Homo sapiens: one gene and its partner. The protein of the gene in region 2 interacts with the protein of the main gene of each other region in a pairwise test. Each region holds a gene or a part of one and is shown on either strand. Other genes may lie near its edges.

The links.
Region 1: the proteins of TFAP2D (region 2) and KRTAP7-1 interact in binary tests that used the Homo sapiens proteins (3 or more experiments, as listed by UniProt).

Annotation. Positions count from the first base shown.
Region 1 is NC_000021.9:30,828,536-30,834,437, forward strand, and holds KRTAP7-1 (keratin-associated protein 7-1), read right to left. Parts: upstream 1,225-5,902; 5' UTR 1,164-1,224; coding exon 900-1,163; 3' UTR 504-899; downstream 1-503. UniProt on the Homo sapiens protein: In the hair cortex, hair keratin intermediate filaments are embedded in an interfilamentous matrix, consisting of hair keratin-associated proteins (KRTAP), which are essential for the formation of a rigid and resistant hair shaft through their extensive disulfide bond cross-linking with abundant cysteine residues of hair keratins.
Region 2 is NC_000006.12:50,716,363-50,723,649, reverse strand, and holds part of TFAP2D (transcription factor AP-2-delta), read right to left. Parts: intron 4,561-7,287; coding exon 4,500-4,560; intron 1-4,499.

The DNA of each region.
Region 1 (5,902 bases), on a different chromosome or scaffold from region 2:
AGGATAAAAAATAATATGTGATTTTAGTAGTTGGCTTCCCTTTATTGATCAAATCTTAGGAACTCTTAAAGATAGAGTTTCATAACTAAGTCTATTTAGTTCCAATTCTTCCAACAACATGAGGGGTTCAAATCTCCCCAGAGCTGAGTTCTATAAACAGTAGGAAAGGAGAAATGAACCAAAATGGAATCTTGTCACTAAGGAAAAGAGAAAAGAAAACATGTTTTAGCATTCAACAGCTAAGAAATATTCCTGTTTTATAATCAGCTTTGAGAAACGCCAACAATTGCAGTATATCTGGGTTAAATACGGGACATTTCCAGGGAGTTTTTTAAATTGAAATATCAATATAAAAATAAAAAATGGTTAGGCATCACCCTATCCTGGCTATATAGTCTGAAATCAGAATAAAATTTGGTTAAAGTCAACCATTACGGGTTTAAACTGATTGATGAATTCAAGAGCATAAAAGAGAAGTGAAATAAATAACCAGGACAAAAATATTTATGCTGAAGGAAATAGATTTATTAAGAGACTGACAGAAAATCCCCTTACTACCCACACCCAATTTGTAATACATTAATGTTGATGTAGAAGCTAATAATACATGAGCAGAGCAACCATGGGAGGCAAACTACTTTTTCACTGTTAAAATTCAAGTATGACCAAAAAAATGCATCTTGCTTCCTTTGTCTGTAGATGAGTATCAGTTCAGCACCTGAGTCCTGGGTGACTTGTCCAACAGCATCAAAGACAAAGACCACAGCAAGAAGTCAGCAAGAAGATGGAAGATGTATCACCCAAGCACATGGGAAGGTAGGAAGACAGTCATTGCTCTTCAGGTTGTTCTGTGCAGAGAATTAATTGAGAGTCCTGTAGTCACTGGAGCCATTGGTCCATCAGTAGGTGCTGTAGCCAAAGCCAGAGCCAGAGCCCCATGGCCTATAGAAGCTACCACCATAGCAGCCGCCCAGGTTGTTGATGTTGCTACCACCAAAGCTGTAGCCCAGGGAGCTGTAGCCATTGCATCCACAGCCATAGTTCAGGGGAGAGCCCAGAGGCACAACACAGTTCAAGGGGGTGGCTCTGAAGGTCCCATGGAAGTTGGTCCCATAGATAGGGTATCCTGGGAAGTAGCTTCCACAGCAGAAGTAACGAGTCATGGTGGCAGCAATTGAGAAGGATTTAGATGGATTGTGAAGGGTAAGTTACCCAAGTGTTAATGAAGGTCTCTTCCCGTACAGGGCTTTTTATACCTCAAGCTGGTGGGCACAACACATCTGTCTAAACATCTTCCCACTAATTTGCATAGGTAATCTCATTCTTTTCTAATAAAATGCTTATAAGGAATGCACAGACTCATTGCCCACATTTTTGTTGGCTTTTCTCTGTACTATTTTAAAGCCAGTGACCATGCTTGACACGCAATCGAATTCTTTTCATCAGAGTCCCATAGTTTAACTACTGTTCTTGATTGCATCATGTGAGACTCTTTAAATCCTCTGATTATAAACTCTTCCCAACTGACATAGCTAAACTAAAAAAGCTTTGGCAAGAATGCAAACACTTCAAGCCAAGACAAAGCCATATATTGAGGTCTTTTGAACATTATTTTGAAACATCAAACTGAAATTCTATAACCTCTTGAAATTCACCCATGTGCCCTTTTAAAACAATTGTATACCAACTAGTTAATGGGTACAGAGTTTCCTTTTGGAGTGAAGAAAATCATTTGGAACTAGACAATGTTGCAAAACATTTGGAATGTACTAAATATCACTGAATTGTTACCTTTAAAATGCCTTGGTTTGTGTTATACAAATTTTAACTCAAAATGTATTTTTTATTTTAAAAAGCACTGCTACACAAATCTATCCAACCAGGTGTTTTTACAGAGGCTGCAATGGTGCCAAATAATAAGTTGGCTGTGAATAACCTGCAAGTAATTTTCATCAATTTCATTTATGAGCATTCTGTTTGTTAATACATATTTTATTTTTTCATGGAGAACATACCATGTTTGCTTGTAAATCATCTTGAACATTGCCAAACTGTCTTTCTGGAGTTGCCACACTGGCGCTGAGTGGGATGATGCTCAATTTCAGAGTCATGTTATACCACACTTGCTTCTTACTGACTCCTATAAAACAAGCCTGAATGCCATGATCCATTATGAAATACCAGTTATATTTAAGGATGCAACACTTCCTTCTGCTCTTATTTTGCCTTACATAACCAATTCTCATGAAGAACGTAAACCAGGAAGGATCTGAGCTCAGCAAAGCTAAGTCTATTCCAATTCAAAGGTTTACGACATCATCTTTTTATATGTGAATCAAAGTCAGAATTCTCTGAAAGTAGAAGAAAAAACTTCCTGAATACCAATTCCTTTTTTTATTTCCATCTTAACAGACAATCACAGAGTCCAATATGCAAAACTAATCATTCCTCTCAGACATCCCTCTCTCTTTAAGATTCTATCTCTCTCAGTTTCTCTGACAGAGAGCTGCCTAAAGAATGTTCTATAAGTGGATATGATTTCTTTTATTCTACAAATTAATTAAATGTCATAAGAGTATATAGAGAAAGTTAAAGAAAAATAAGTTATAATTTCAAATTCAGTTTAACAAAAAGAATGAATTAAAATGGTAAGAGGTTGTGTCCTCAGGGTTTAAATTATATAAACTCTGTATCAGATAATCCAGAAAACTCAAAAATACGTTTGTGATTAGGAGAGGGCAGGGGTGACTAAGAATTACGCGTGACTTGAAAAATTTCACTACTGATTCTATCACACAATGACATTGGAACCTGTAATTTGTACATGCTGCCACCAGGTGGCAGTGGTATTTCAGTTACTCCGTATAAACCACAGGACTGGATTTAGGGTTCTCAAATGTAAGCAGGTAGAAGAATCTTCTAAAGAATTCGCTTGAAATTCAGAATTCCAGGAGCTCTCCTCTCCCACCACCACCTGAGATTCTGGAAATCTCTATTTGTAATGGGTATCTCAGGTAATTCTGATGAATAAATCATCCTGATAAATTCCAGGGCTGGTTTGTCATGAGAATTCAAAAAAGCTTTTGCTGGGCTGTGTGAAATTGCCCAGAGATGCTTATCTCTCATTGGCAGGAGTGTTTGGTTTCAGTCGCTGGTGACTTATTTCCCTTAACTCTGGATGATAGAGGTAATTAAAGAAAAAGCTTTAGTTTGTCCTCTTCCATTTCTTGATGCTCTCTGCTTCTTGTCTCAGGACACACCTGATTAGAAAGGGAAGGTAACAGCAATGTGTTCAAGTGTCTCCTCAGAGGTAAAACCCACCTATGTGACTGCTGGTTTTGTTACCCATAATCAAAAGAAAAACTTATATTTTCTCCTTAGCTTGTTTTCACTTTCCTATCTCTTACTAGACATACCCAGAGAAAATTATCAGCCAAGTACTCGATTGCTATTCAATGATTTTTAAGATTGATAATAACAAAAAATATCATTAAGGACTTACTCTGTGCTAGACTCTGTTCTAAAGAATTTGCACATACTACTTAATTATATATTTTACCTCTATATATAGTAAGAAGGCTTACTATGCACTATTCCAAGCATTTGACAAGTGTTAATTCATTTAATTTTTATAATGATCTTATGATGTGGGTATTATGATTCTTTATAAGAAAACCGAGTCCAGAGGGTTTAAGAGAATTACTGAAGGTCACATGGTTAATAGTCAGCAGAATCAATCTCCAAACCCATGCCATCTACCTCCAAGCCATGCTCTTAACTACTTTACTATCCTGCTTTTGATATGTCATTAAGGCTTTAAAGGGATATAGCTTCTACATGCCTCAAATCTATAATTCATTGCATTATTTTTTGAAGAACACATCGATCTAGCTTTTGCTGCTAAAAACTAGAAAACAAAAAAACAAAGGCTAGTTTTTGCTGCTATAACAGACAGACATCCAAAATTTCCATGTTCAGAAATGTATTGCCTGCTCACACTATGAATTCCTCTCACATTGGTGACTGTCTTGGATACACATCATTTTCACTCAAAAGACTCAAGCTGACAGTGCTTTGATTATCTGAAATATGACAAACAGGGGAAAATGAATGGGGCAAGCCATGGTAGCTTTTAAAGGCTCTCCTCAAGTGTTATACACCATTTCCACACTCTCCTCATTTCCTAAAGTAAGTTCCACAGCCACATCTAACTTCACAGGTCACGAAGAGCAATGCTACTATGTGCCTGGAGGGCGAAAGCCTACAATGTCACCGAACAACATTAATGACTTCCACTGAATTTCTATTCCTTACATGGGCTAAAATAATTTTAACAGATTTTAACACATATTTCAAAAGATTAGATGAGGGCAGACATAAAAAGTTTTTTAGAACTTTACATATCATAATGTAAAATGGTCCTGATAATTCTAATCCTGAACAATTTTAAATATAGAGGTTTTATAAGTTGTTTGTGCAATTCATGTAATATTAGTCAGCCTTTGGTTGTAGATTAGCATGTAGCTTTAATTCCTTTTCTTTGTTTTCTTTTCTCCATTTCCCCCTAATCACTATGTACTCTAATTGAGGGAAAAGTTGCCATAAATATTAGTTTTACAAAGAAAATCCCTCAATGCCAATTGATTTGGTGGGGGGAGAGATTAGTTCTAACACCAGATTTTATTTGATTTATTTGAATGCATGTATTTTCTTTAAAGAAAAGAGAAAATGAATTGACACATAGTATTTACAAGGAAAAAAATAAGCAATAAGGAGCCTACATGACATATTCACTTGGAAATTTGAGAACTTTTATCAGGCAAGGATCAGACCCCACTCATAGCCTCCCAGCCTCTCCCACCTCTTATGCAGCTGCCCCTATAGGAATCATCTTGGTGTAGGTTCCAACTCACCTCAAGCTGGTACAACATGATGGAGCTTTACATCAGTCCCCTCACCAGATATCTGTCATCCCCCACCTGGGGACTTCACCTTTAATAGCTAGGATAGAGACTGGGGAGCCTATCTAGGGCCCATGCTTGCAAAACCTGAAGTGTAGGGCAGTTAATGCCCTGTGGAGCAAAACTTCGACCAAAAAGAAATGGAAGTGTGGATATATTCTCCCCTTTTCTCCATGGACAGACTTGCCTGAGACAGTCCTAAGAGGGTTAGGCAGCTTCTTGGGGAATAGTGTCATGGAATCCAGCACATAATTGCTTAGCTATGGTCAACTGGATGAGGCATCTTCATTTGAGCACTCCACCTTCCCTGCTTCACTTCCCTTACCCTTCGCTCCTTCTCCTGAAGAAAGCAATAGTACATGAGCCCTTCACCTGAAACTCTGCTTTCTAGAAAACTCAGAACAGAATACCACATCAAACCATCTTTGGAATAGCACCTTTACTGAGATGTAATTCACATATGATAAAATTCACCCAAAAGTGTACAAAAAGTATACAGTGGGTTTTAGTGTATTTATAGAGTCCATCACCACTAACCAATTTCAGAACATTTTCTTTACCCCAAAAAGAAACTCCATAACCACTAAAAGTCACTCCCAATTTACAACAACTAAACTAAGTTCTCATTCATAAGACTTAAGCTGACAGTGCTTTCATTATCTGAAATATTACAAACAAGGCAAGAGGAATGGGGCAAGTGACGGTAGTGTTTGTTTGTTTGTTTGTTTGTTTGTTTGTTTTGAGACGGAGTCTCGCTCTGTCGCCCAGGCTGGAGTGCAGTGGCACGATTTCGCCTCACTGCAACCTCTGCCTCCCGGGTTCAAGTGGTTCTCCTGCCTCAGCCTTCCAAGTAGCTGGGATTTACAGGCGCCCACCACCACAACTGGCCAATTTTTTGTATTTTTAGTAGATACGGGGTTTCAGCATGTTGGCCAGGCTGG
Region 2 (7,287 bases):
AAGAGTTTTAGATTTCATATAAAGGAGATTGAATTTCAAACCTGCAGAATCTGCACTGGGGACTAAGGAGGCAGGCGAGGCTTGAGGTGTATCTCTGGCTCTATCTTCACCCATAATGGATGAACCATAGAGATGAGTTTTGGCTAGCGAGAGTAGTGATTCCAGGTAATCCATCTGGAATCCGAAGAGTACTGACAAAGGAAGAAGAGCAAGGCTTCCCACGCTCCTCCAATTGTACTCCTTCAGGAGCTGCTGAAAGAATCCACGGCTTTCTCCATCCCGGATTCCAAGGCTCTGGGCCTTCCTGAAACCCAGAGAAGCAGAGGAAATCGCTTCCTCCTGCCAAGCAGCCTGCTGCCGGCCTTGAGGCCGGCTAAAGGGAAAAGCGATCAGGTCCTTCTACTCTGTTATGGGCAGACTGAGCAATTGAAGCTAAGGTTCCATTTCAAGGAATTTTTTTTTTAAAGAAATTAAATCAGATCTGACAATGTTTGTACCGCGGCGTAAATGCCTTTGCCTTGGCGTGCCAGTCACCTCTAAGCGCTCTGACAAACTCAAACTCTCTTAAAACGTGCAGAGTTCAGATCATATTAATTCCTCCAAAATGTTTTGATTCAAAGTAGTTTGTATTTTGTGTAGCCACGGGCAATCAGGAAAGCGCTCCTGCCTGCCCATGGCCGGGTCCGCTCCCTCTTCGCGTGGCCCAGAGGCTACCGCAGTGTTTAAGCTTCTGAAATTAGCCTGGGGCTGCAAGGCAGAATGATCACAAAGCGAAACAAGGGCGCTTCCCCTCTTCACTTTTTTCATTTTTTCCTCTCCCATCCCCCGCCCCCCCCTTTTTAGTTGCCATCTCGATTTCACAAAACAGACCAGGGCCAAAATGTCACTTTCCACCCATGTAAGGAAAAGCTAGGTCTTCTCATCTAGCCCACTTCTGAGGTCCACAGCCCACTACCCACTTGTACCCCCACCCTGCGATTCCAATATGGATCCATTTATTATGAGCTTCATCATCACCATCGTCATCAACATTGTTCACTTATTATTAAATACTCAGAGCAGGAAATGAAAGGGACCGGTGTCTGGCAAAGGGGAGGCGGCCATAAGGGAGCCTCAGAAGATTCAGGGGGGAAAAAAAGAGTGAGATTTTCTTTCTTTTTTTAATGATTAAAAACACAGACGACTCCTGTAAATAGAAGCCTCATTTCTTCAAGAGATGCCTTTTGAAACCCGATATCTGAATATTCAACGAAGGCAAAGCTCCACTCTGTACGTACAACATTAATATGATCTCTGCAGAATTTGCTACTCAGTAATATTAACATATCAAAGCCTACGCCCGAGGCGAAAGAAGCTATCGATACGCGAGCACAGGGTAAAGTAAAGATTATTGGTTCTGATGGTTGGAGAGCCGGAGCTGCGGGCAAAATCGCGTACACCATTAACCGAGAGTCAGCACGCAGGGAGCTGCGCCTCCGAGGCAGTGGCAAATATTTTATCTAGGTGGTAATTACCTAGCTGCTGCCCCCTCTTTCACGCATTCTTTGGCTATCGGGCCTTCATTACAGGCTAAAATAATGTAATTGCCACTTAACAAAATGAGTCAGGGCGACGCTATTTTGTTCTTTACAAGTTGAAGTCACCAAATGTGAAGAACAACTGAGAATGCCCAAGCCCTCCACGCCACTGCAAACCAGGACAATGTCCCTGATTAACTCATGTAAAGTACATAGTCACCCATATTTCTTCAAGAACATCATTTGGGGTCTTTGGAAGTGGAATCTATTTTTTTCCCTCCCATAGTACATTCTAGAAACCATTAGAAATGTAAATTAATCCGGGAACTTAGCAGAAAAGAGAAAATGGTGAAAAATTGTGCTTTGCAATAAATCATGTTTCATGTGGTGGGTCAAGCATGAGCTGGAAAAGAAACAGACATTCTTAGCTTTTAGACAGTATCGGGTTATATGAAGTATAGCAGTATAGCAGCACTTGAGTTAATGTCTTCCTGATTTTTGGTGAACACAAGTAGTCTGAGCTGTTGATATTAGGGGTCCTGTGTACTACCATGACAATTGAGAAAATAGGCTTCTTTAGGGTTTTGTAAAAGGAAGTTCTGAGATGAGGGGCTGGGCAGGCTGCAGCAAAATATACGCCCTCTTTTGGGAATACACTTCCCTGCTATCCACTTGTAAATTGACATGAACATTGATTGTTTCAGAATAAACAGACACGTATAGACACACACCCTCCTCTCCAAGGCTCAACTAGGTTAACTGGCCTTTCTCTAAGACACGTGGAAATGGAATAAACTCAGCAGCTAAAATCTGAATTCCTATGAAGAGGGGTTTAGTCAAACAAGACAGACGTAAACCCCAAATTACATTCCCTTTCTCTCTGGAGCTTCACTAGTCTCATATGACATCAATATTTGGTTTCAAGTAGCAGATTCGACGATGATTTTTAGTTGAAACGAATAGGGACCGAATTCTACAGGAATAATAAAGCATCACCTAAGGAAGATAATTTCTGTGGCTCTGATAAGGTAGCTAACATTTTGGAGATACCTAAGAGCTTTGGCCTTTCTTGGGAATTGAGTGAGGGGGTGAGAGGGTGTCCCTTAAATCTCTCCCCAGAAATTCAATTGATTCCAAAGCCTCTTCCTCTCTAACTCCCTCCTCGGCCTCAAGTAATTCCACCCTCTGTCAGGTATCTTACGCTCAGATGCAGTTTCCAAGCATTTCAGAAGGTGATCTTGGTCAAGTGTGAAAGCGAATGCAAAATTGCAGTAGCAAGAGGCCGGCTGTGGGAGAAGCGGGCTCCCGTCCCTAATTAGTGGCGCTGTCCTTCAGCACCACCGAAGTCTCTAAGCGCCCTGAGTGTTCTTGCCTCACCTTATTTTTACCCGTCCCAACAGACCCCTGATCAGCACATCTCACCTGGTCCCCTGTTCACTGTGTAAATCTTTTTTGCCTCCTCCAACACAGTGCATTCAATATTCATCAGTCTTGGGCCTATTTTATTCCATTTCAATAGGTCTGAGTACCAGCGTGGCTGGCAAGCTTAATATTCCTCATTTAAAAAATCTTTGTGGAGTTATACCACGTATATGTGTGTGTGTGTGTGTGTGTGTGTGTGTGTGTGTGTGTGTGTGTGTGTGTGTTTTAATCTCCATAGGGTGAAACAAGAAGTGTTGAGCAGCTCTTTTAAATTTAATGTAAACTACCAGCATCCACTAAAACAATAACCAAGTTCCAAAAGGAAAGCACCCTTTGTTTTCTTTCCTCCTCAGTTTAAATGGAGTTTACATTGGACATTGGGATGTAAAATCTGCAGTTTAAACATGAAAGAAGCAACTGATTTCTACCAGCACATCTCTCTATCTGGAAAAGCAAATCTTTCAAGAAGCTTTCAAAGGGATGGAGAAGGGCTGAAGGACACTTATTTGGTCCCATCAGAAGAGACTCAGTTTTTAGTGTTCTGTTACTGCAGACAACTGTGGCCCTGAAGCAGGAATTAGTCTTGGTGAATAGACCACATCTTATTAATTCGTATGAAGTTAGGATAACAGCTGGTCCCTCTTGCCTTGTGTGCTGCTCGGGTTACTCAGCTTGCTAGAAAAATAAACTTCAGAGGCTTTGGGTACAGTTAAGTAGGGGAAGCTAGCAAAATCTGCACTGCCTTAAGGCTCTGAGAATGTCATAGTTCAAAACCTTTTGTCAAAATGGAACATCTGAGATGCAGCCCCCTTTAGTGCCCGAGCTGAAAGCAACAGCTCTCTCCTCTCCTCTTGCCTTCCCCCACCTTCCAATTCCATGGGTAACTCTGGATTCAGATGTTTCCCTCAACAGATGGGAACAAGAAAGCTTTATCCAGTACAGTTAACACCACCTCCTCCTCCCACCTTCCCTTAAAGAAAGAAATGTCCTGGACACTTAGAAAAATAAGGGCAGCTACAATATTGGTGTTTCATTAGCCTCCCCTGAAGCCTCAATGATCTAGCCTTTCACAGAATCCCTAAAAGCCTGAAGCTAACACCATCATCTCAAACACCCAGGCTGTGGCTAGCACATTTAGGGCTTAAAAAGACCAGAAATTCTGCTGGAGGATGTGGTATTAGTGCTGGGGGAAGAGGGTGTGAGAAACTTCTTTCTTTCTTTCTTTCTTTCTTTCTTTCTTTCTTTCTTTCTTTCTTTCTTTCTCTCTGTCTTTTTCTTTTGTCTTTCCTTCTGCCTCTAACTTTGATTCTGTCACTGTTCTGTGAGGAGCAACAAATATCTCCTATCACAAGTCTTATGGGCATAGCCTGGGTTCAAACCTTGATGAAAGAAAGGAGGCTTTTTAATGTGGATATGCCAGTGTTGGACTAGAATAATTGACTAAGCATAATTGTTTTCTTAATCATCAGAAAAGGAATCTGAGCACAACCAGATCTTCTAAACAAAGTAAGAGATAGGAGAAGAATGTCTAGGGTTAACATGTTGTTACTTGTTACTTACCTCTTCTTATCACTCCACCTTGGCCATTGAGAACAAGCCCACACTGGGCCTCCACAGAGCCCTTAATAAAAGAAACAGAAATAAAATTACTTAAATGGATACTCATATGCATGACCACGTAGGTAAAGTCTTTTAGACTAGCCCATCCCTGAACTCTGTTTCAGTAGACATTTGAAAGCAAGCATTGAGCTGAAGCAAGCTTGCCAGCAAACACAATTTTTTAAAAAATTGCAAGAAAAACCACAATCTAAAAGTTGTATAAATCTTAAGGTATGCATTTTACATCACCATACAATATTACACTTCAAAGTGCCTGGGAGTCTTTCATCTTGGCATAAGAGAATGAGAAGCCCTTTGAGTCCCCATCAAGGCACACAGCGTATATACAGACAGTGTACACTCAGCACTTTCTGAGTAGAGCAAATTACACCTAGAGTGTCAAGTCTGGGACTGTGGGTTTCTTGAGGACACAGAGGAGCTACTTCATATGCAGGATACAAGATGTCTTATGGAGGTTCTGTTTTACCCCAAATGTAGGAACATCCTGTAATCCTACCCAAAATGGGCCGTATGAAGGAAAAATCTTCAGGTTCACTCACTGTAGGCCTTCAAAGTCCTAATGGATTGAGGAATCCCTAGAGCTGGAAAGATGGAAAGAGTTTGCTGATTTTTGATTAGGAAAAATAAAAATTTCTCCCTGTCTGTCGTTTTCTTTTTTCCCAAATCAAAATGTGTTAAAGGCTCATTTTCCTTTACAAACAAACGAGGTATTGGACATGAAAGAGGCCTTGAAGGGTGTTAACCTACCCAACAGCCCGTGAAGAGTTAAGTAAATGCGGAGAGAGTCGGTGCATAATAAAAACCCACTTTACAAAACAACCTTTACAACCCTGGCTCCCTTTCGCCTCCCCATTTTCACCATATTGAGGCAGGCCTGTAAGACCCCCCTTTTCAACCTACTCACAAGCTCTTTCTTATTTTAAATGTTCTGCCTTAAAGTGATTATCAAATCAATATGAAAAAAAAAAAACTTGGAGACTGAGCATAAATTAAAGCGGTGATGGGAAAAGGTGTGACAGTTTCCTTTGTTGGCCATAGCAAATCTTTTTAGGGGACTCAAAGATGGAACTGAAGCCACAAGACTGTTTGCATCTGTTAGGCAGACTTAGACCGCCCTCCAAACCATTGGACTTTCACTTAAAATTCTGTGCAGGGAAAAGTATATTTACATTTGTTGCATTTGAAATGAGGCATATGCTGATGAATGTTTTAAAAAGGAAGAAATAAAAGGAGAGAGACGGGTTTCTCCCACACACTCCCTCCCCATTTCTTGTTTTAAAAGTAGCTATGACTCTTTCTTTTTCATTCTGCCAACTTGGAGCAAGAACAGTGGAAGAAAATAACTTGTCAGATTTACAAACTTGCTACATAGCATTCATAGATTAAATAGATAAAGATGGATATATATTATGATATATACATACATGGATATATCTATGTAAAGGTATAAACGTATATCACACACAGTACTATATTTCTTCTAGTATCTTGGACTGTGTCCCTTAGTATGAGTAATTTTGCTTCAGTATGAGTAATAAAAGAGAAAAAGGACATTCGTATATGGAAAAAGAGATAGGCTGAAGAAAAGCTTTCAAAATATCTGAAATGTAGATGATAAATGGTCTCAAAGCTCTCCAAAGCAGTGAATCACTTTCCCTCCCACTCTCTGGCGCACGGTTACAATGTTTATTTTCTTAGAAGAAACGAATCTTGGTTTCTTCACTTAACAAACTTTTTCCCCTCATAAGTAAAACATGTTGTTTGGTCGGATGACATTGCATAAATGACCAGTTGAATGGCACTAAGTCGAAAATTGGATAAACTACGGTGTCCTTTTGCACGGGATTCGCTCTTTGTCTAGTGCTTGCAAATGTTCTAATCCGCTCTTTTGAAAAATGCTCGGCTTTGTGCCTAGCACAGAAAAAAAATTTGTACAGATACAAAAAAATCAGCAGCAGACGCGGCTATTAAAAGGAGTAAATAGGTTTTAGTTGAGCTAAGCACTGAATGGCAGATTTTTTTCCCTCTTGAGACATAAGGGGATCCTTGTGAAAAATGTAAAAATGCCCTGAGCGTATAAAATTATTTTGTGAATATAAATGTAGAAAGTCAAGGTTTATGGAACCAAATCTTTTTTCTTGTGCACCGGTCTTACTGCTATGGCTCTTTGTTGGGACTGTAAGGGCTTTCACTTTAATTTAAAAATAATCTCTTGCTCAAAGGTAAATGAGGAGGAAAGATTTTTTGTGCGCAACAAGGGATCTCTTACGTCTCCAACTTATGTTCTTAGAATATTTCCCTATTTGTCCTGGAGAGTGTGAAGAAGGTGGCCAGCTTTGTGCAGACACAAAAAGTAGGAACTCACAGGTAGAACTGCACTTTTAGCTAAAAGGAGCTAAAACTATGGGTCTTTTGAATTATTTTCTGGGTATTTGTGGGCTCATTTGTTTGAAATATGCCTATGGCAACATAATTGCATAATTATAAATTCTATCTTTGGTAAAGAATGTGCAAACACGTGTTAAGAAATAAAGTAGAAGAGAGATCATCTGATTGAGTGATGGCCTCCACAGTGTCTGAATACCTGCCTTCTTTCCTTCCTTCTTCTTTTTCTCCCTTCCTTCCTTCCTTTTCTCCTTCCTTCCTTCCTTCTTTATTTTTTCCCTCTTTCATTACCGTTACTGCCTCATTTTTATCTTTTTAAGGAGGTGCATTTTACGTAAAATGT